Linked DNA regions of Homo sapiens: all the other regions are linked to region 3. Evidence: fine-mapped expression QTL. A gene starts in region 3. Each other region holds a variant in brackets. All regions are shown on one strand. Distances are between the middles of the regions. Region 1 has its middle 7.9 kb from the start of CPSF4L. Region 2 overlaps CDC42EP4 (CDC42 effector protein 4). Region 3 holds the start of CDC42EP4 (CDC42 effector protein 4). Region 4 has its middle 15 kb from the start of CPSF4L.

What was found. PIP is the estimated chance that this variant, and not a neighbour inherited with it, causes the effect.
Region 1: its variant is the best candidate, but not a certain one, in a credible set for the expression of CDC42EP4 in whole blood (INTERVAL, PIP 0.89).
Region 2: its variant is the best candidate, but not a certain one, in a credible set for the expression of CDC42EP4 in whole blood (INTERVAL, PIP 0.82).
Region 4: its variant is the best candidate, but not a certain one, in a credible set for the expression of CDC42EP4 in monocytes after R848 (Quach 2016, PIP 0.86).

What each region holds. Positions count from the first base shown.
Region 1 is chr17:73,267,231-73,272,374 of GRCh38, forward strand. No RefSeq gene overlaps it. Among named protein-coding and RNA genes, the nearest start is that of CPSF4L, 7.9 kb to the left of the region's middle. RefSeq lists an enhancer at 3,919-4,268. The variant A/G (reference allele first, on the strand shown) is at 1,959.
Region 2 is chr17:73,281,736-73,286,879 of GRCh38, forward strand. CDC42EP4 (CDC42 effector protein 4) reads right to left here. Exons shown (of 2, transcript NM_012121.5): 2 at 1,889-4,877. The coding sequence starts at 4,765. The coding sequence ends at 3,695. Among named protein-coding and RNA genes, the nearest start is that of CPSF4L, 22 kb to the left of the region's middle. RefSeq lists enhancers at 30-159, 3,012-3,568, 4,124-4,679, 4,680-5,144. The variant T/C (reference allele first, on the strand shown) is at 2,848.
Region 3 is chr17:73,309,004-73,314,147 of GRCh38, forward strand. CDC42EP4 (CDC42 effector protein 4) reads right to left here and starts at 2,998. Exons shown (of 2, transcript NM_012121.5): 1 at 2,890-2,998. RefSeq lists silencers at 1,747-1,876, 1,887-2,436, 2,887-3,146, 3,217-3,376.
Region 4 is chr17:73,273,909-73,279,052 of GRCh38, forward strand. No RefSeq gene overlaps it. Among named protein-coding and RNA genes, the nearest start is that of CPSF4L, 15 kb to the left of the region's middle. The variant T/C (reference allele first, on the strand shown) is at 2,030.

The DNA of each region.
Region 1 (5,144 bases), 42 kb before region 3:
ATGTCCCTGGAGGACTGAGGATCAGTGAAAGTACACGTGGTTGCCTGTCACAGGAGTGGTTTTTGTTGTTGTTGTTTTATTTTTGAGACAGAGTCTTGCTCTGTCCCCCAGGCTGGAGTACAGTGGCGAAATCTCAGCTCACTGCAACCTCCGCCTCCCAGGTTCAAGCGATTCTCCTGCTTCAGCCTCCTAAGTAGCTGGGATTACAGGCGCCTGCCACCATGCCTGGCTACTTTTTTTATTTTTAGTAGAGACAGGGTTTCACCATGTTGGCCAGGCCGGTCTCGAACTCCTGACCTCAAGTGATCCGCCCACCTCGGCCTCCCAAAGTGCTGGGATTAAAGGCATGAGCCACTGCGCTTGGACCTATCCCTTCTTAAAATGCATTATTCCTAAGGGCCCCTGGTAAAAGATGCCATGGGGGAAGGGGTCCCATGATGCTTCAGGTGCTGCTGGGGGCTACTGTAAGATCCGGCAGTGATGGCCTGGCAGCCGAATAGCCACGGGGTTGGGAGGGGCTGGAGGTCAGGAGGGGTGCCCCTCACCCGCCGCTGCTGCTGCTCAGTCCCAGGGACAATGAGCCAGTGTTCCCTGCTCTCTCCACCGCCCTTTGTGCCCCAAGAATGCCACTTGGAGGGGACAGCTGTTGGCTTCACAGTGGCCACTTGAAGTGCAGGGCAGGGAGGCCCTGCAGCCAGGATGGTCCTGCTCTGTCATTGTGCAGGAACTCAGTCTCTAGGAGTCCGTCAGTTCTGACACCTGCACCCAGGGAAAGACATCTACTTCCCCTTGGGGCTTGGAAATAGCCACAGGACTAATAAACCACCCACACTTCTCATTCAAGGCTCCTCCCATTCTCAAGGTAAACTTCCAAGCTGCTCTACCCGTTTTATAGGTAAGGAAATCAAGGCCCAGAAGTGAAACCACTGCCTAAGCTTATATAGCCAGTAGATGTGGGAATGGGGGCCTAGAATCCAACCTTTGCTACCAGTTACTAGGACTTAATTGGTTTAGGTTCACTGTTTACGTTGTATTCTCTCTAATTCCCACAAAACCTTGCAAAGAGAGCTATTATTCTTTCTCTTCTACAACTGAAAAAAGCTGAGGCTAAAGGCTTAGATGTGCTTCCTAAAGACCACAAGCTCAGGTCTGCTTGGCCCCAAAGCCAGCTCCTTCCAGCCTACCAAGCTAAGCGTGGGAGACGGCTCCACCTCCCCTGGGCTGGGAAGACCACCCAGACCCCTGAGGCCCAAGACAGCTACTGAGCCTTTGCTTGTTCCTGAGTAGGTAGGATGCAGATTCTACTTTTGGTCCAAATATCAAGGAAATAGGACATTTTGGGCTTAGGGAGTCAGCCCTGCTCAAAGGGGTGTGCAGATAGCATTCCCTGTCCACTGTTGCCGCGACGTTTCTTCACTTGGTCTTCAGGTCATCCTCCGCCCTGCCTGGGGTTCTGTGCCCAGAGCCTCTCCAGGCTGAGCAGAGGCTGCCCAAAGCCTCCCTGGGCTCAGAGGGAAACTCCACAGGCTTCAGCCCCTGCCCCCCATGACCTGTGAGAAAGGAGCCTGTCACCCACAGCTGCAGGCCCGGCCTGTCCGCAAAGCCGAAGTGGCAGAGGTGGCAGGTGGGGCAGCTTGGGTCACACTCTGGTCTCCTCCTCCTTAACCACAGTCCTCTGGCTTCCCACGTCTGGCTCTTACCCTCCCTCCTCTGGGGAGCTATTCACTCACTCACTCACTCATTCACTTACTCATTCATCCACTCACTCATTCACTCACTTATTCACTCTCACTCATTTATTCACTCACTCACCTATTCACTTATTCACTCACTCTTTCACTCACTCACTCATTTATTCACTCATTCACTCACTCATTCACCCATTTGCTCATTCACTCACTTGTTCACTCATTCACTCACTCATTCACCCATTCACTCACTCATTCACTCACTCGTTC[A/G]CTCATTCACTCACTCATTCACCCATTCACTCACTCATTCACTCACTCACTCATTCACTCATTCATTCACTCACCCACTTACTCATTCACTCATTCATTCACCCATTCACTCATTCACTCACTCACTCATTCACTCACTCACCCACTTACTCATTCACTCACTCACTCATTCACTCACTCATTCACTCACCCACTCACTCATTCTCTCACTCATTCACTCATTTATTCACTCACCCACTTACTCACTCACTCATTCACTCACTCATTCTCTCATTCACCCACTCATTCTCTCATTCACTCACTCATCCACTCACTCACTCATTCCCTCACTCATTCACTCACTTATTCATCCATTCACCCACTTGTTCACTCATTCACCCACTCATTCACTCAGTCACTCACTCATTCACTCACTCACTCACTCACTCACTCATTCACTCACTCACTCGCTCAAAAGTATTTTTTAACTGCTGCCGTCTCTGGAAGACACAGAACAAACAAGACACAGCCACTTGCCTAGGAGATTGCACTCGGTAGAATAATGTGCTCCCATCCAAAGATGCCCACATCCTAATTTCCAGAAACTGTGGGTGTGTTACCTTACAAGGCAAAAGGGACCTTGCTGATGCAATTAAGTTAAGAATCTTGAGATGGGAAGATTATTCTGGATTATCTGAGTGGGCCCAATAGCACCACAAAGATCCTTATGAGGAGGCAGGGTCAGAGGAAGGGAGAGACACAGAGGAAGAGAGGAAAAAACAGAGAGAGATGTGAAGATGCTGTACTGCTGGCTTTGAAGCTGGAGGAAGGGGCCATGAGCCAAGGAATGCGGGTGGCCTCTAGAAGTAGAAAAGACAGATTCTGCCCTCAAACCTGCAGGAGGAACACAGACCTACCCACATCTTGATTTTAGCTCAGTGAAAGCCATCTGGGCCTTCTGACCTTTAAAAATGTGAGATATTACATTTGTGGGCCAGGCATGGTGGCTCATGCCTATAATCCTAGGACTTTGGGAGGTGGAGGAGGGTGGATTGCTTGAGCTCAGGAGTTTGAGACCAGCCTGGGCAACATAATGAGACCCCATCTCTACAAAAATTAGCTGGACGTGGTGGCCTGCACCTGTAGTCCCAACTACTCAAGAGGCTGAGGTGAGAGGTTGGCTTGGACCCAGGAGAAGGAGGTCGCAGCGAGCTGAGATTGAACCACTGCACTCCAGCCTGGCGACAGAGCCAGACCCTGTCTCAAAAAAAAAAAAAAAGTGCTGTTTGTTTGTTTGTTTGTTTGTTTGTTTTTTTGAGACGGAGTCTCACTCTGTCGCCCAGGCTGGAGTGCAGTGGCGCAATCTTGGCTCACTGCAAGGGCTGCCTCCCGGGTTCACGCCATTCTCCTGCCTCAGCCTCCCGAGTAGCTGGAACTACAGGCGCCCGCCACCGCGCCTGGCTAATTTTTTGTATTTTTTAGTAGAGATGGGATTTCACCGTGGTCTCGATCTCTGATCTCCTGACCTCGTGATCTGCCTCCCAAAGTGCTGGGATTACAGGCGTGAGCCACCATGCCTGGCCAAAAAAGTACAGTTTTAAGCTACCAGATTTGTGGCAATTTGTGTTTTCTATTTGTTTGTTTTGTTTTGAGACAGAGTTTCACTCTGTCACCAGGGCAGGAGTGCAGTGGTGCCATCTCAGCTCACTGCAACCTCCACCTCCTGGGTTCAAGTGATTCTTGCGCCTCAGCCACCTGAGTAGCTGGGATGACAGGCATGCACCACCACACCTGGCTAATTTTTGTATTGTTTTATAGTAGAGACGGGATCATTTCCATGTTGGATAGGCTGGTCTTGAACTCCTGATCTCAAGTGATCTGCCCACCTCAGCCTCCCAAAGTGCTGGGATTCCAGGCATGAGCCACTGTACCCGGCCAATTTGTGGTAATTTGTTACAGCAACAATAAGGAAACTAGTATAGAGAGGAACGTAACCAATAAGCAGGCAGTGACATCAGAAGGCACTGGCGGAGCTACTACAAGGCTGCTGAGCTCTCACTTAGGTGTTGCAGGAAAGCTTCTGGGAGGAAGTGAAACAAAGGCATAGACATGTAGAGTCTTGTCAAGGCAGAAGGGGGACAATGGTTCCAGCCGCCGCCATGCGTTTAGGAAACCACTTCTGGTTCTATAGGATCAGATCTGGCACACTGGCTGCTGGGGGTGGCTCGGGGGACTGGGAGGTCCAGGCTTGCGAAGGGCCTCAAACCTGGGACCTTGAGGAGTCACTGAAAGCCCACTTTACGATGTTGTTGAAATTTGCATTTTTACTTTATTTTTTATTTTTGAGATGGAGTCTCACTCTCTCACCCAGGCTGGAGTGTGGTGGTGCAGTCTTGCTCATTGCAACCTCCACCTCCTGGGTTCAAGCGATTCTCCTGCCTAGCCTCCTGAGTAGCTGGAATTATGGGTGTGCTCCAGTACGCCCGGCTAATTTTTGTATTTGTAGCAGAGACAAGGTTTCACCGTGTTGGCCAGGCTGGTCTCAAACTCCTGGCCTCAAGTGATCCTCTTGCCTCGGCCTCCCAAAGGGCTGGGATTACAAAGGTCTGGAATTACTCCAGCGCCGTGAGCCACTGCACTGGTCGAGATTTGCATTTTAGAAAGAGCCCTCTGGCTGCAAAGTCCTGGGGCCACTCTCTAGAGAAGGCATGAAAGAAGGACATCCGGCAGCCAACTGCCAGAATCTAGAATTGGCTGAAAAGCAGCTCCAGGCCGGGCGCGGTGGCTCACACCTGTAATCCCAGCACTTTGGGAGGCTGAGGCTGGTGGATCACCTTGAAGTCAGGAGTTTGTGACCAGCCTGGCCTACATGGTGAAACCCCATCTCTACTAAAAATACAAAAATTAGCCAGGTGTGGTAGTGGGCGCCTGTAATCCCAGCTACTTGGGAGGCTGAGGCAGGAGAATCACTTGAACCTGGGAGGTGGGGGTTGCAATGAGCCAAGATCGTGCCATTGTACTCCAGCCTGAGCCACAGAGGGAGACTCCGTCTCAAAAAAAGAAAGAAAGAAGTGGCCGGGCGCGGTGGCTCACGCCTGTAATCCCAGCACTTTTGGAGGCCAAGGCAAGTGGATCACCTGAGGTCAGGAGTTCGAGAACAGCCTGACCAACATGGTGAAACCCCGTCTCTGCTAAAAATACAAAAAT
Region 2 (5,144 bases), 27 kb before region 3:
AGTGCTAGGATTACAGGTGTGAGCCACGGCGCCTGGCTCCCAGCAAATCTTAACAGAGCTCTGTGGCCTGGCTGGTTCTGCGTGTTCATCTCATCCTTGTCTCCTGGGTCCACTGAACCCCCAGCCAGAAGGTATGCTCCTTAAAGCTGTGAATCAAGCCAGGTCCCCGGGTCTTCTTGAATGCTCAGAGCTTTTCCATCAATGGTCAAGAAACAGATTCTGGGGCTCGGGGCGGCTGGTTTCTCTGGGCCCCTAGGGAGTCCCTGGTTAGTCGGTGTAGGTACAGTCATTTCTCTCTCTTGGGAGGTTGCACTGTGTCTGGGAGGCACAGCCCCTTCTCATCTGCCTGGTCCTCGCCTGAACAGTACCTTCCTCTCCCCAGTCATCCCTGAGCTAGACTGTAGCCCCTAGGGACCCGTCTCCCAATGGGCCCCAGCTCTCCTCCCTCTCTCTTCTTCCCTTGGGGCAGCCAGAAGTCCCCGCTCATAACTCCCACACGAATGAGCCTGTCTAGGGACAGAGGGAGGGACCTGAGTGACATTTTAATTATGCCTCTAATTGCTTTCCAGGGAGATGAGTGGGGAACTCACATTTCTCTGTGGGTGCTCAGGGGAGAGTGCAGGGTTTCCACCAGGAACTCAGCCACATTGAGATCCCCAAGATTTCCCCAGATTTCCTGAGAGCAAGCGGGGGCTTCAACAAGCAGTGAGCCAGCCCTACGCAGACCAGGGCTCCCTTCTGAAGCTGTCCAGAAAGAGGGGAACATGATTCAAGGGAAGGAGGTGGTAGGGCAGGGGCAGGGCAGTGGGTTCAGGGGCCACTAGACCCTCACCCCCTGACTTTATATCCCGAGGTTTTGATGTGCCCAGGAGTGGTGGGGTGAGAAGGGCAGGAGTTTTGAATGAATTCTGGGCATTAGAGAAGGCGGCCTCGAGGCTTATCTGATCATCTTTCTCCATCTGGAAAATGGGGATGTGGAGCTTCTATCTCCCTGAGAAGTGAGGTTGAACTGAGGACCTGCCACTTGTAAGCTGATTTTCCAGGCTTAACGGTAAAAGGGGAAAGAGGAGGTGGTAGCCCCGCTCCCAGCATCATGCAGAAACTGCCTTCAGGGCCAGCCACTTTCTGGTGGTGACAGTTCCGTGCACCAGGACACCAGGGGGCTGGGGAGAACACAGTCACTCTCATCCTAATCACAACTGTATAAAAAGCCCATGTCGACCGGCACGGTGGCTCACACCTGTAATCCCAGCATTTTGGGAAGCCAAGGTGGGCGGATCACTTGAGGTCAGGAGTTGGAGACCAACCTGGCCAACATGGTGAAACCCAGTATCTACTAAAAATACAAAAATTAGCTGGGTGTAGTGGCGCACGCCTGTAATCCTAGCTAGTTGGGAGGCTGAGGCAGGAGAATCGCTTGCACCTAGGAAGCGGAGGTTGCAGTGAGCTGAGATCACACCCCTGCACTCCAACCTGGGCGACAGAGTGAGACTCCATCTCAAAAAAAACAAAACAACAACAACAAAAAAAAAAAACAAAAAAAAACAAAAAACCAACCCCCTCCCCCACAAAAAGCCCATGTCACTGTTTCTGTGCCTCAACCCTCTAAGAGTGGCAGGATACCCATTTTACAGAGCAGGAGAGGGAGGCACAGAACAGCTAAGCGACCAAGTGCCAAGGGCTTCCAAGAGATGGCAGTTAGGGACACCTGAGTCCCCAGACTCTGAAGGGGCCTGCCCAGGCAGACAGCATCGCAGGAAGGGCGGGTCCTCACGGACAGAGAGACAGAAGCCACCTCAGGCCCCCCTGGACAGCTCTAGGACCTGGGTCCAGACCCCACCCCCATCCTGAAATAGCCCTCCCAAAAAGCAGAGACAGACACCAGGCGTGCTTTAGGGCTTTTTTTTTAATGTTTCCTCACTGTTTTGACAATATCATGAAAAAAATCAGTTTAGAATCTGGAATTGGCCTGGACGGGATTCGAGGGCAGCTGGCGGGGGCTGCATAGCCCCTGAGGTTCCTCCCCCACCATGGGACCTAAGCTATTGGAAACAGGAGCACCAACAGGGCACCGAACCTGGAACTAAGTTAGTGTCTAGAGTCAGGCAAGAGAGGAGAGTCAGGCAAGAGAGGAGGGGCCGGGCCACAGTCGCCATGGGGACGCCCCTGGCTGTGGTTGGTTCTGTGTCTCCCCCTCCCCTCACTGGCTACATGGAGACAGGGAGGTGGGTCAGGCTGTTCCCAGGACAGAAAAATAACCGGCAGTCAACCTCAGGGCTCATACCCGAGCTTCTGCTCAATCCCCTCGGGGACAGTTACAGGACTCAGAGAGAAACGTGAATTTCAGAAAAACAAATCATTTTTCACATAAGTGTTCCAAATATTGCGTGGGGCATATTAATGCTAGAAAATTATCTTTTGTTTACCTGAAATTTGCGTTTAACTCAGCACTCTGTTTTGGTTTTGCTAAATCTGGCCAACCCTGGCCTCAAAAGTCGGTGGGGGGAGGCCTGAGAAAAGAAAGGGAAGTAGTCAGTACTGAGGGTATTGAGGGGAGGGAGGGAATAACTCAGCCAAAAAGAAAAAAAAGGCTTTCCCCCCATAGGAATGATATATTATTTAAAAAAAAAATCGTTCTCCAAAAATATTCTGCACTGGCCTTCCTCAGTTGTTAATAGCTATGGGAGGTGCGTAGGGAAAACACACACACCAGACACCCACCCCATGTCATTCTAAATAAAGTTGGGAAGCACTAAAGTTGAGCTGGTGTCTTTGCCACGGATGTCCCCAGACTCCAGTCCGCTAATCGCCACCAGACTCCAGTCCGCTAATCGCCACTGTGAATTT[T/C]GAAGAGGAGGCTTAGTATAAAGGTTTTCTAAAAGGATTGATTCTCATTCTGAGGCAGACCTATTAACACCATCCTGATATTGCTCTATAAGGATTTAAACACAATAATAAAGAACAAACAAGCCCCTAGGGACTGAGCGAGTGCCCTAGCCCTGTTCCTAGTGTCATCCTGGAAGGGTCCCTTCTTGCAATTCACGAAGCCTGGGGGGCTTTCCTTCCATTCTCCATCCTGTTCTCTTCCCCTGGAAAGGGCTGCGTTTAGTGCACATGCTCGCAGCTGGCCCCCCGTCCAGCTCAGCTCCAAGGGGCTCCAGATTTCCAGGGCAGGAGCTGGGGTGGGGCAGGGAGGGGCTGAGAGGCAAGACCGTCTCCCTCCTGCTGCAGCTGCTTCCCCAGCAGCCACTGCTGGGCACAGCAGAAACGCCAGCAGAGAAAATGGGAGCCGAGAGTCCTTAGCCCTGGAGCTGAGGCTGCCTCTGGGCTGACCCGCTGGCTGTACGTGGCCAGAACTGGGGTTGGCATCTGGCATCCATTTGAGGCCAGGGTGGAGGAAAGGGAGGCCAACAGAGGAAAACCTATTCCTGCTGTGACAACACAGCCCTTGTCCCACGCAGCCTAAGTGCAGGGAGCATGATGAAGTCAGGCAGCCAGTCGGCACCCATGCCAGCCCCCTACGTCCTCCGAAGACCCGAGGGCCAGGCCAGTGTCCCTCATCTACAAGGTCCAGGGTCCATGGTCTGAATCAAGGGTCCTGGCTGCCCCTGCGCCGTAGGGTCAAAGGTCATAGTGGGGTGGGGGCAGGGAGAAGATGCAGCCAAGAGCTCCCGGTGGCCACCCACTGTCCGCCTCACACACGGATTTCATCCTCCTCCTCCTCATCCATGAAGGAGAACTCCTTGTCTGGCTGTCTTGAGACAGCAGCCCGGGCCCTGTCCGGCCCCCGGAAGGCAGGGCTGCGCTCCTCCAGGATGCCTGAGGTGCAGCTGGAGAGGGAGCTGCTGTCCCGTGTGGTGTGGCTGCCCATGCTGCGGGCTGAGCCGGGGCTGGGGGCCGCTGCTGCCCACCCCTCATCCTCCAGAGCATGGGAGGGGAGGGAGGGCAAGTCTGGGCCAGCCTTGCCTTCCTGCCTTGCCAGGGGAGGGGCCGCCACGGCGTACGGGGGAGCCTGGGTGATGGTGCCAGCGGCGCCCTCATCGCCATGGTAACCACCCTCCCCCTCCTCGGGGTCCCACTCCTCCTTGTCCATGATGCTGAGGACGTCACCCAGCATGGAGGGCCCCAGGTCGATGTGGAAGGACATGATGGACTCCGCATGCTTCAGCCCGTACGTGGCCTTGGGCACGACAGGCAGATCTGTCAGATCCCCAAAGGCCTGCTCATCGAGGAGGGGGTCAGGGGAATGTGGACCCGCGGCCCCATTCCGACGGGGCACTGCCTCCTCCGTGCCCGCCTCCTCATCGCCGCCCTCCCCGTCATTGGCCTTCTTCACGGGGCTGGATGACAGGCTCTTGGGCAGCTTACTGGTGCCCTTCTCCGCGGCCTCCTTCTCATTGAGCTGGGGCAGGGACATGGCATTCTTGACAAACAGGGCCGAGTCCCGCAGGGAGCCCAGCATGTCACGCTGCTCCCGCTCCCCCCTGGTCACCGACTGTGACCGCTTGCTGCCCCGGAACTTCCTGGACAGGAGACTGCGTTTGGAAGATGAAGAAGAGGGCTGTTCGTCCAAGGACTCGCCGTCGGGCTCGCCAGCCTTGCTATTGAGGAAGGAGGTGTCCCCAAAGGCGTCTCCGGCCCGGCCAACGTGCATGGTGTGGCGGAAGTCGCCCAGCGGGGCGCTGATCATCTCGGCCGTGAGGTCCGCTCGGGAACGGCGCTTGGAGTGCACCGAGCTGGACACCAGTTGCTTGAGGATTGGCATCTTGCTGGATGGGCGGGGAGGTGGGCCCTCCCGAGGTAGCCGGCAGGTCTGGGGTCAGATCTGAAGTCCAAGTCCAGTGGGCAGAGGGGGACGCAATGAGGAGATCATAAGGCTGCAAGCAGAGAATGAGAGGCAAAGGATTAACGCGGGCTGGCCACACGGCACAAAAGCCTCTTTGCCAGGGGACTGTCATTTAAACCCCAGCGCTCCTACCAAAGTTAAATGCTGTGAAATAAGCCAGCAATCCATGGTATAACCCTGCCTGTTTCTTCATCCGCAGGCATTCAGAGTAGAGGAGTGATTTTGCAAATCTGGTTAGAGTTCCAGTAGCCTCGGACACACTTTCCCTGAAACTTGAGAGAGACAGAACCTTTCTTGC
Region 3 (5,144 bases):
CTCCAGCCTGGGCAACAGAGCAAAGCTCTGTCTCCAAAAAAAAAAAAAAAAAAAAGGGTTGGCCAGGTGCAGTGGCTCATACCTGTATGCCCAGCACTTTGAGAGGCCGAGGTGGGGGAAGATCCCTTGAGCTCAGGAGTTCAAGACCAGCCTGGGCAACATGGTGAAACCCCACCTCTACAAAAAATACAAAAAATGGCTGGGCGTGGTGGTGGGCGCCAGTAGTCCCAGCTACTCAGGAGGCTGAAGTGGGAGGATAGCTTGAGCCCAGGAGGTCCAGCCTGCAGTGAGCCTTGACTATGACGCTGCACCACAACCTGGGTGACAGAGCAAGACCTGGTCTCAAAAAATTAATAAATAAAATAAAAATTATTTTTAAAATCAAAAGACTGGTGTAAGATTCCTCTCCCAGGTCAACACTCACTCCCCTGACCTTTATACATGAGACCTCCCTTTGCTTCTGACTCCTTGGTCTCTGGTTCTGTGAGGTGCTGTCGGGTTCCAGAGGCAGCAGCACAGTGGAGGCAGGGTACAGAGGATGGGGACAAGCACGGTGGGTGGGCAAGGGAAAGAGAGAAACGAGGGGAAAAGAGAAGAGGAATCCAAAAAGAGAGAGGCAGAAACCCCAGAAAATGGAGAATCATTCACAGCACAGGCCTAGGCTGTACAGCAGAGCAGGAGCAAGCTGCCCTCTGTGTGCAGGGACCCTAGGACTTCAGGGAGATTTCAGAGGGGAGGCGCTGAGACTCACCCCAGAACCACCGCCCATATGATCACAGCGGGCCCCTCCTAGTCCCTGCAGGGGTCCACCAGGATGCCTGGGAATCCACTTGGGATCTCCCCAAATTCACTGAACACCCCTTGTGGGAAGGAGCAGCTGTCTTCAAGGAGTGGAGAGGCAAAGTCCAAGTTCAGAGGAGATAAGCCACCCCACTAATCAGTCAGTCACATGTGCAGCTCACACAGGGCAGTTGATGAGAGCAGGAACCGGCAGGGCACCCCCGCATTCAGTAGGCACTGGCTTCTCAGCAGAGATAGAGCCTCAGGAGATCCTGGTGGATGCCCTGTTATTGCCCCAGGAGCCCCTGGGGCTGCCAGGGGCTCTCTTAGGGCCTGGCTCAGTCCCAGCCAACTCCCGATTTCTGGGAGAAATCAGAAATCCGCAGCTCAGCAATCCCTTCCTTTGTGGCCTGTTCTTTGTTCTCTTAAAATTCAGTCCACCCTGCTGGTGGTCCCTCCTCCACCCTAGCCTCAGAAGCGGGCGGGGGCTGAGGGAGTTATTGGAAACCCAGACTGCCAAAGAAGTCGCCTTGCAGGAGGCCCCTGTCACCGGCCCCTCATTATTTACACTCGCTGGATGGGACATTTCTCTGGTACAGATGGCTGCTGGGGTTCGGACGAGAGAGAGATTTTCCCTCCAGCACCCTGGACCCTCAGGGGAGGGCAGGGGGCTTCGCAGCGACGGGGGCTCCCAAGGACTCCACCCGGATCCAGCTGCTCAGCTATCTGGGCAAACAGTGGGCACCGGGCACACAGTAAGGGATGTGGGAGCCGGTCAGATTGCAAGGGGTGGGAGTCGTGGAGAGAGAGAAGTTCCAGAGGCAACGAGAAAAGAAAAGGCATTGTATTTCCCCTCCATTCTCCCAGGGAGAAAAAGAAAACTTCCAAAGCCGAGGCCGCAGTCACTGGGAAAACACAGGGAACCTGGTTTGAGTTAGCAGCGAGCACCCCTCCCCCAGTCACACACACACACACACACACACACACACACACACACACACACACACACACGCACTTCAGTCCTCTCCCAGGAAGCTGGCTCAGCCTCAGCCCCGGCTCCCGCCCAGCTCTCCAGCCCTCCCGGCCGGGGCACTCACCGGCTGACGGGATCCCCGCGGGCAGGATGGCTCCTGGGGGACGCGCCGGGGGCAGGGGGCAGTTTTGTAACCCCGGCTGGGGGCGCTCCGGAGAGGGGGCGGGGCCAGGGACGGCCGATCCGCGCGCACCCGCCCCAAGCGGGCGATTAAATCATTAACCGACCGCTCCCGCCTGCGATCCCGCTGAGCGCGCTGAGCTCGGGGCGCACTAGCCCAGGAGCGGCCGTCTCCCCGGCTCCAAGGGGGCGGGTGGCTCGACTGCCCTCCCCCCGCACCCCGCCAGGAGGCGCCTCGGCCTCCCGGGCTTCCGAGGGAGCGGGCGGGGCGGGAGCCTGGCGGGGGAGGGAAGGGTTCGCGGGGCGGGAGTAGGGGAAAGGAGGACCATTTGTTCCTTCGGCCATTCCCTTCCAGACAGCTCCTTCCCTCTGGCTTCCCGGCCGGGTGACATTGGGTGGCGTGTGCTGCAGTGTGTGTACGAGAGCGAGATGTGTACACGCCTCTGCCCGTACAGGCGGAGAATTCGGTTCTTATTCATGGAGAACTCCGGGCGCACACACGCCCCCCTCGCGGAGATCGCGGGCCGCGCGCCGCCGATTGCTGCGCTCCTGCCCACACCGACACACACCCCATTCCTGGGAAGGGGGAGGCCCTTTAAAACCGGCCCCCAACCCCCTCAGCGGCACCCTTGGCCAGGGCCGGGAGTTCCAGCGTGGAGAGAGGAAATGGAGTCCCGGCAACGCTGCGCCCGGCTCCCTGCCACCTCCTCCTCCACACATCCCGCTCTGCCAGGACACTAGGTGCGCAGCTTAGGGTCCCAGGCACCGCGGTGGGCGCGGTGAAAAGCGCGAGCGCCGAGAAGTGGGGGCTCCGCGCCCTTCTCCCCGCGCCGCGGCCTCGCATCCCCAGCTTCGATCCTCTCTGCCCCACAGGGGGACTCGAGACCCCCAAGCCCACCCAGGGCACCCAGCGCGAAGGCGGCTACCACAGACAGAGGCGGTTGCCCGTCGCCTACCTCGGTCCCCGGAGACCCGAGCTCTGGGCCGGCTGCGCTGTCCCCTTCGTGGGCTCCGCGCGGCGGAGGGGCTGGCGGCCCCTGTCAGCGCCGGCGTTTGTTTCCCTCTGGCTCTCGGGCTTTCAGGGCTGGGAGCCTCCAGGACACTCCCCTTCCAGGCTCCGCCCGCGCCCGCCCCGCGCAACCCTCCCCGCGCACCCCTCTGCGCTGATGTCACGGCGCCGCAGCAGCCAATGGCCGTCGGGAACCTCTGCCCGACTGCTCGGCCTCCTCGGTTCAAACTGAAAGCCTGAGACTTTCCCAACTCCGTATGGGGCAGCCTGGGCCCGCCCGGCTTCCGGGAGACACTCCCGCCCCAGCCTGCGCTCCGGCCGCGAACCCCCACTGGGGCCCCCAGGGCCAGGGGCGCGTCTCCCTCCGGGGGCCTGGCGCGAGGCTCTTTTGAGGCTCTTCCCCATTCGAGCCGGGGCAAGAAACCAAGAACTCCAGCCCGGGTGGCGTTCCTCGTTCCTGCTCCCTCCCGGACCTGCTAACCACCTGGCTGCAGTACTGTCGGGAGATGGGGCAGGAGGGCTGGCGCCACCAGCTTCGTGGGTGCCATCCCAGACTCTCGCTGTAAACGAGGGAGCGGGGAGGAGCCGGCCAGCCCCGAGGCCAGGCTTGGACTGGGCGTCAGAAATGTTTCTACAGGGTGACAGCCCTTGAGCTCCCCGCATCCCCGTCTGTGCCTTTGCCTCCTAAGTATCAGCTGAGGCTAAATTTGCACCAGGTGAACGTCAAGGAGGATCAACTCCTGAGTCCCAGAGCCTGAATCCAAGTCCCAGGCCTTGGACTCTATTCTTTTTAGAGGAATAGTTTCAGTTGAAATGATCATTATCAAGGTAGAATGCCAGCTGCGAAGTAGTCAACTAAAGTGGACAAGGCGCAAAGTGAAAAGTTCCCTTGCCTCTAGCTGAACCCCACCCTCGGTTTTTAAAGGAAGTGAGGGTGAAGGCCCCAGACTTTCCCCATGGCTGCGAGGTCCCTAAGCCCTCAGGAACATTCTGCTTTCTGGGGACAGCACATTTCCGTTTCCCTCTGCAGTGCGACAGCAACCAGCTCTTGAGAGCTAATGGTTTGGCCACTCCATCCTGCTGTGAAAATTAAGTTCTGGGCTGGGCGCAGTGGCTCATGCCTGTAATCCTAGCATTTTGGGAGGCCAAGGCAGGTGGGGGGTCACTTGAGGTCAGAAGTTTGAGACCAGCCTGGCCAACATGGCGAAACCCCATCTCTACCAAAAATACAAAAATTAGTCGGGCATGGTGGTGGGCGCCTGTAATCCCAGCTACCCAGGAGGCTGAGGCGGGACAATCGCTTGAACCTGGGAGGTGGAGGTTGCAGTGAGCCGAGATCGCGCTATTGCACTCTAGCCTGGGTGACAGAGGTAGACTCCATCTCAAAAAAAAAAATAAATGAATAATAAGTAAAATCAAATTCTGAACTGGACATCTGGAGGGAAAGGTAGGGTTTGGAGCCACTTGGGAGGCAGACACTGTGGATTCAAACCCTGGCGGGGTTATCATGGATGTAAACCAAAAAGTGACTAAGGCAGATCTCAATCAAATAGAGGTTTAGTTAGCCAAGGTTGAGGATCCACCGGGGAAAAATCACCTTTTTTCCAAAAAGGTTTTGGGAACTTCTGTATTTAAAAGAGAAAAAGCAAGCAGGAAAGGAAAAGAAGAGGGAGAGAGGGAGGAAAGGCATTGAGGTCACAAGCGTGTGAGGCTCTGATTTAGTGTCTGTAAGTCTACATTTTACATGTGAAAGGGAATAGAAGAAAAAGTCAATGATGCATTGTCTCCTACTCAGTACGTCTAAGGGGAGCAAAGGAAACCCTGTGTCAACAGGGTTGTGAAACTGCAGCTATCTGGGAACAAAAGGAAAGCAGCTTCTGTGGTTTCCAAGCTTAACGTCCCCCCCAGCCCCGCCCCTTTTTTTTTTTTGGAGACAGGGTCTTGCTCTGTTGCCCAGGCTGGAGTGCAGTGCTGCAATCGTAGCTCACTATAGCCTTGGCCTCCTGGGCTCAAGCGATCCTCCCACCTCACCCTCCTGAGTAGCTGAGACTACAGGTGTGCGCCACCATGCCCAGCTACATATTTTGTACTTTTTCTTTTGTAGAGACAGGGTTCTGTCATGTTGCCCAGGCTGGTCTCAAACTCCTGAGCTCAAGCAATCCACCCACCTCAACCTCCAAAAGTGCTGGGATTAAACTTTCC
Region 4 (5,144 bases), 35 kb before region 3:
AGGAGAATCACTCGAACCCGGGAGGCGGAGGTTGCAGTGAGATGAGATGGTGCCATTGCATTCCAGCCTGGGCAACAGAGCGAAACTCCAAAAAAAAAAAAAAAAAAAAAAAAAGCAACAGACCCTTATTTCTCTTAGTTCTAGGAAGTCCAAGATCAAGGTGCTGGCAGATTTTGTTCCCAGGGAGGGCTCTCTTACTGGCTGGCAGATGGCCACCTTCTTGCTGTGTCTTTACAAGGCGAGGAGAGAGAGACTGAACGCTGGCCTCATTCTCTTCTTACAAAGACACTGATTCCATCATGGCGTCTCCACCCTCAGGACCTCACCTAAACCTAATCACTTCCCAAAGACCTCCAAGTCCTAATACCATCACATTGGGATTAAGGGTTCTGTGTGTGAGTTTTGAGAGGACACAAACATTTGGTCCATAACACTCGCTTCACAACAGCTTGCCATTTCCATTTGAATCAGCTTCCATGTATCTGAGATCAAACTCAAACTCCCCCAAATCCATTCTTCCCTCAGTCTTTCCTGCTCAGAAAAAGTGAAACTGCCCAGACACTCAGGCCAAAAGCTAGGTGAATCTTTGGTTCTCTAAACATGCTTGTCCCCGCCATTCACCTCCCGGACTCCTCATCCTCTGAGTCTGATTTAAATGCCACTTCTTCAGGGAGCACCTACCCCCCATGACCTGTGAGACAGGGTCTCACTCTGTACCCCAGGCTGGAGTACAGTGGTACAATCATGGCTCACTGCAGCCTCAACTTCTGGGCTCAAGTGATCCTCCCACCTCAGCCTCCTAAGTAGCTGGGGCTGCAGGAATGCACCACCACGCCCAGCTAGCTTATTTTTTGCAGAAATGGAGTCTCATTATGTTGCCCAAACTCCTGGGCTCAAGCAATCCTCCTACCTTGGCCTCCCAAGATGCTGGCATTACAGGCGTGAGCCACCACACCCAGCCCCCAGTGACCTTATCCAAAGTGAGGCCCCGGGTTATTCTCCCTCTGAGCGTTAGTCTCCCTCCCAGCATCTAGATGTGTGTTTCCTTCAAATCAGTACCATGTTTGCTGCTTTTACTTATCTTCTTGCTTGTTGAGTGTCTGTTTCCCAAGCCCTCCAACCCAAACCCTTAAGGCCAAGGCCCATCCGGGTGACTTCGGCAACAGTTCAGTAGACACAGTGCCAGGGCCCTCTGCCCTTTTAGGGGCCCACAAACGTGTTCTAATTTATTTGAAAATCAGAAGAAAATAGCCGGGCGTGGTGGCTCACACCTGCAATCCCAGCACTCTGGGAGGCCAAGGCGGGCAGATGACGAGGTCGGGAGTTCGAGACCAGCCTGACCAACATGGTGAAACCCTGTCTCTACTAAAATACAAAAATTAGCCCTGCATGGTGGGGCGCACCTGTAATCCCAGCTACTCGGGAGGCTGAGGCAGGAGAATTGCTTGAACCCAGGAGACAGAGGTTGCAGTGAGCCAAGATTGCACCACTGCACTCCAGCCTGGGCAACAGAGCGAGACTCCCTCTAAAAAAAAAAAAAAAAACAACAAACAGAAGAAAATATGCAAACCTGTAGGTTTATAGCAGCAGAGTCATAAATATAATTTTCACAATTTTTATGGAGGAAGGGGTCCACACAACTTACAGTGCCACCCTGGGACTGTGTTGGCTTTGCCTACTGTTATACCTCCCAACACATCCCAGAGTACTTGGAGCATGGCAGGGGCTCAGTACATATCTGATGAATAAAGGAATCTGCACTATAGTTTTCTTTTTTTCAGAGAATACAACAGCAAACTCTCTGCAGTCAGCCCAGATTTGGTGGAGGGTTGGGGAAGAACCACGGTTGTGAGAAATGATATTGATGCAGGATTGTCTTCAAGTCAGCCAGGAGATGACACAGTCCTCTCACTACTCTAGATCTGCAAGGAGAAGCCCTCTGGCCCATGCCACCTTCTCAATACAATCCTCGATCTGACTTCAGGATGAAAAATTAGAAAGCTGCCTTGGTACAGCCACTTCTCAAGTA[T/C]ACCCATGTAGAAACATTTTACTGGCTAATAGGAAGTATCAATTTTCTCAATCAAGCAGGCAATTAAAAAATGTAAGTATATACATTTTTCCTCAAGGGACTGCATAAATTTTTTTTTTTTTTTTTTTTTTTTTTTGCTTTGAAGAAAAGAATGTGACCTAAAAACTATTTTTGTTTTTTTTTTTTTTTGAGATAGAGTCTCACTCTGCTGCCCAGGCTGGAGTGCAGTAGCACGACCTCGGCTCACTGCAACCTCTGCCTCCCGGGTTCAAGCGATTCTCCTGCCTCAGCCTCATGAGTAGCTGGGATTACAGGCGCACACCACCACTTCCGGCGAATTTTTGTATTTTCAGTAGAGACGGGGTTTCGCCATGTTGGTCAGGCTGGTCTCAAACTCCCTGTGATCCGCCTGCCTCAGCCTCCCAAAGTGCTGGGATTGCAAGCATGAGCCACCATGCCCGGCCCTGAAAACACTTTTATTTGTCTTAAATTGGTCTTTATATTTTGCCATTACTTTTAACGACAAAAAATGCAATTACATCTTTTTTTTTTCTTTTTTTTTGAGACAGATCCTGGAGTGCAGTGGCATGATCTTGGCTCATTGCAACTTCCGCCTCCCGGGTTCAAGCAACTCTCCTGCATCAGCCTCCCAAGTAGCTGTGGTTATAGGCTTGCGCCACCACGCCCAGCTAATTTTTGTATTTTTAGCAGAGACAGGGTTTTGCCATGTTGGCCAGGCTGGTCTCGAACTCTTGACCTCAAATGATCCGCCCTCCTTGGCCTCCCAAAGTGCTGGGATTACAGGCGTAAGCCACCGTACCCAACCCTCAATTACTTTTGCACCAACCTTTTAAGAAAGTGGCTCACTCCTCCTTTATGAGCAGTGGTTTTCAGCCCCTAATAGGGCATTTGGCAATGTCAGGGGACTTTTTTTTTTGAGACAGGGTCTCACCCTGTTGCCCAGGCTGGAGTGCATGGTGTGATCACGGCTCACTGCGGCCTCAACCTCCTGGGCTCAAGCCATCCTCCCACCTCAGCCTCCCCAGTAGCTGGGAGCACTAGGTGGACACAACCACACCTGGCTAATTTTTTATATGTTTTGTAGAGATCTGGTTTCACCATGTTGGCCAGGTCTTGAACTCCTGGTCTTGAACTCCTGGGCTCAAGTGATCCAACTGCCTCGGCCTCCCAAAGTGCTGGGATTACAGGCATGAGCCACCGAGCCCGGTCTGAGGACATTTTCCACTGTCACAATTTGAGGGAGTGCTTGGCATCTACCAGGCGGAGGCCAGGGATGCTGCAAACACACTACAGTGCGCAGGTCAGTCCCCAGTAACAATGAATGAGCCAGCCCCAAATATCAATAGTGTTGGGTTGAGAAACCCTCCTCTGGGAGGATCTAAATTGTGCCTCTTGGATCATGTGGGTCTGGCCCTCCATAGAGTGGGTTTTACTGATCTGTGCCTTGGTATCAAACCCTCAATTTATCCTGAGTAACTCTGTAGAAAGCAGCTGATAGGGTTTGTGTGACTGTATCTGTGTCTTACTTAGTCCATTTGGAGTGCTATAAACAATATTCCACAATCTGGGTGGCTTATAAACAACAAAAATTTGCCAGGCACGGTGGCTCACACCTGTAATCCCAGCACTTTGGAAGGCCGAGGCAGGCAGATCACTTGAGGTCAGGAGTTTGAGACCCACCCAGCCAACACAGTGAAACCCTGTCTCTACCAAAAAATACAAAACATAGCCAGGTGTGGTGGCGTGAGCCTGTAGTCCCAGCTACTCGCGAGGCTGAGGCAGGAGAATCACTTGAATCCGGGAGGTGGAGGTTGCAGTGAGCCGAGATCACGCCACTGCACTCCAGCCTGGGAGACGGAGCAAGACTGAGTGACCCTGTCTCTAAAACAAAAAAGGACTGTCGTTGACGGTGTTGCTTGGGACACTACCCGTCATCCCTTCAAAGGTCCCACGAGAATTCCTCTCAGACTTTAGTGTCAGAAATAGCTGCGCTGCTTCTAGGTTGAGTGTTTTATTTTGCTTTTTAATTGAGTCAGAATCCTGCTCTGTTGCCCAGGTTGGAGTGCAGTGGCACAATCTCGGCTCACTGCAACCTCCACCTCCCAGGCTTAGGTGAGTCCCCTGCCTCAGTCTCCCTAGTAGCTGGGATTACAGGTGTCTGCCACCACGCCCAGCTAATTTTAAGCGGAGTTTCACCATGTTGACCAGGCTGGTCTCGAACTCCTGGCCTCATGTGATCCACCCGCCTTGGTCTCCCAAAGTGCTAGGATTACAGGCATGAGCCACTGCACCCGGCCAGGGTTGGTTTTAATCTTGTGGACTTTGTGAGTCTCAAAACCGGCAGATTTCCCTCTTTGTTTTGACTGATACGAAGCTCAGAATCCTGTTTGCAGTCCACCTTTGAGGATTGTGGAGCCCCAGCCAAAGAACATTTCTGTGTCCTACCCTCTTGGTTCATTGTACCATGTGTTCCAGTGTTGTTTTCTCTCTGATCTATTTTTATCCTATTGTATTTTATGAATTTTTGTAAGCTGCCTCTAATCCTTTTTGGAAGAAAGCAGGGCAGAAGAAGAAAACAAGATTCATCAGAACCCTGTGGCCTTGACAAGTGTGTTTTAACATGCCAAGTGTCATTTAGGGTTGGATTCTGGCCAGGGAAGGCAGCTATCCTTGGCTCCTCCTATCTCTCCTGGGAGTCTCTGTGGAGAACAGCAGCTCAGTAGGTTAGAGCAACAGGTTTTAGAGGTAGAGCCAGTATCCATCTGCCTGCAAGCACCACTCCCTCCCACCAAAATATTCTTCCCAGTCTCCCATCTGTCTGTTGGCAGGAAGCCACGGGGCCTAGAGGAGATCGGAAAGGGGAAGAATAAAGATAAGGTCTCCCATTTTCATTCCTAACTTTTATTTCTGGCATCTTAAATCAGGGCCCTCAGGGCTCAGGGAAAGATCGTGTACGTGTTAAGTGCTGCGGGTGAAGGGTGGCCAGGAAGGGCACCTGCCCAAGTGTGGAGGGAGTGGGGGCCTTGGGGAGTCTGTCATATGAGGGTCGAGGGGAGCCAGGCAGGGGTGGGGAGTGCCACACACACCTGGAAAG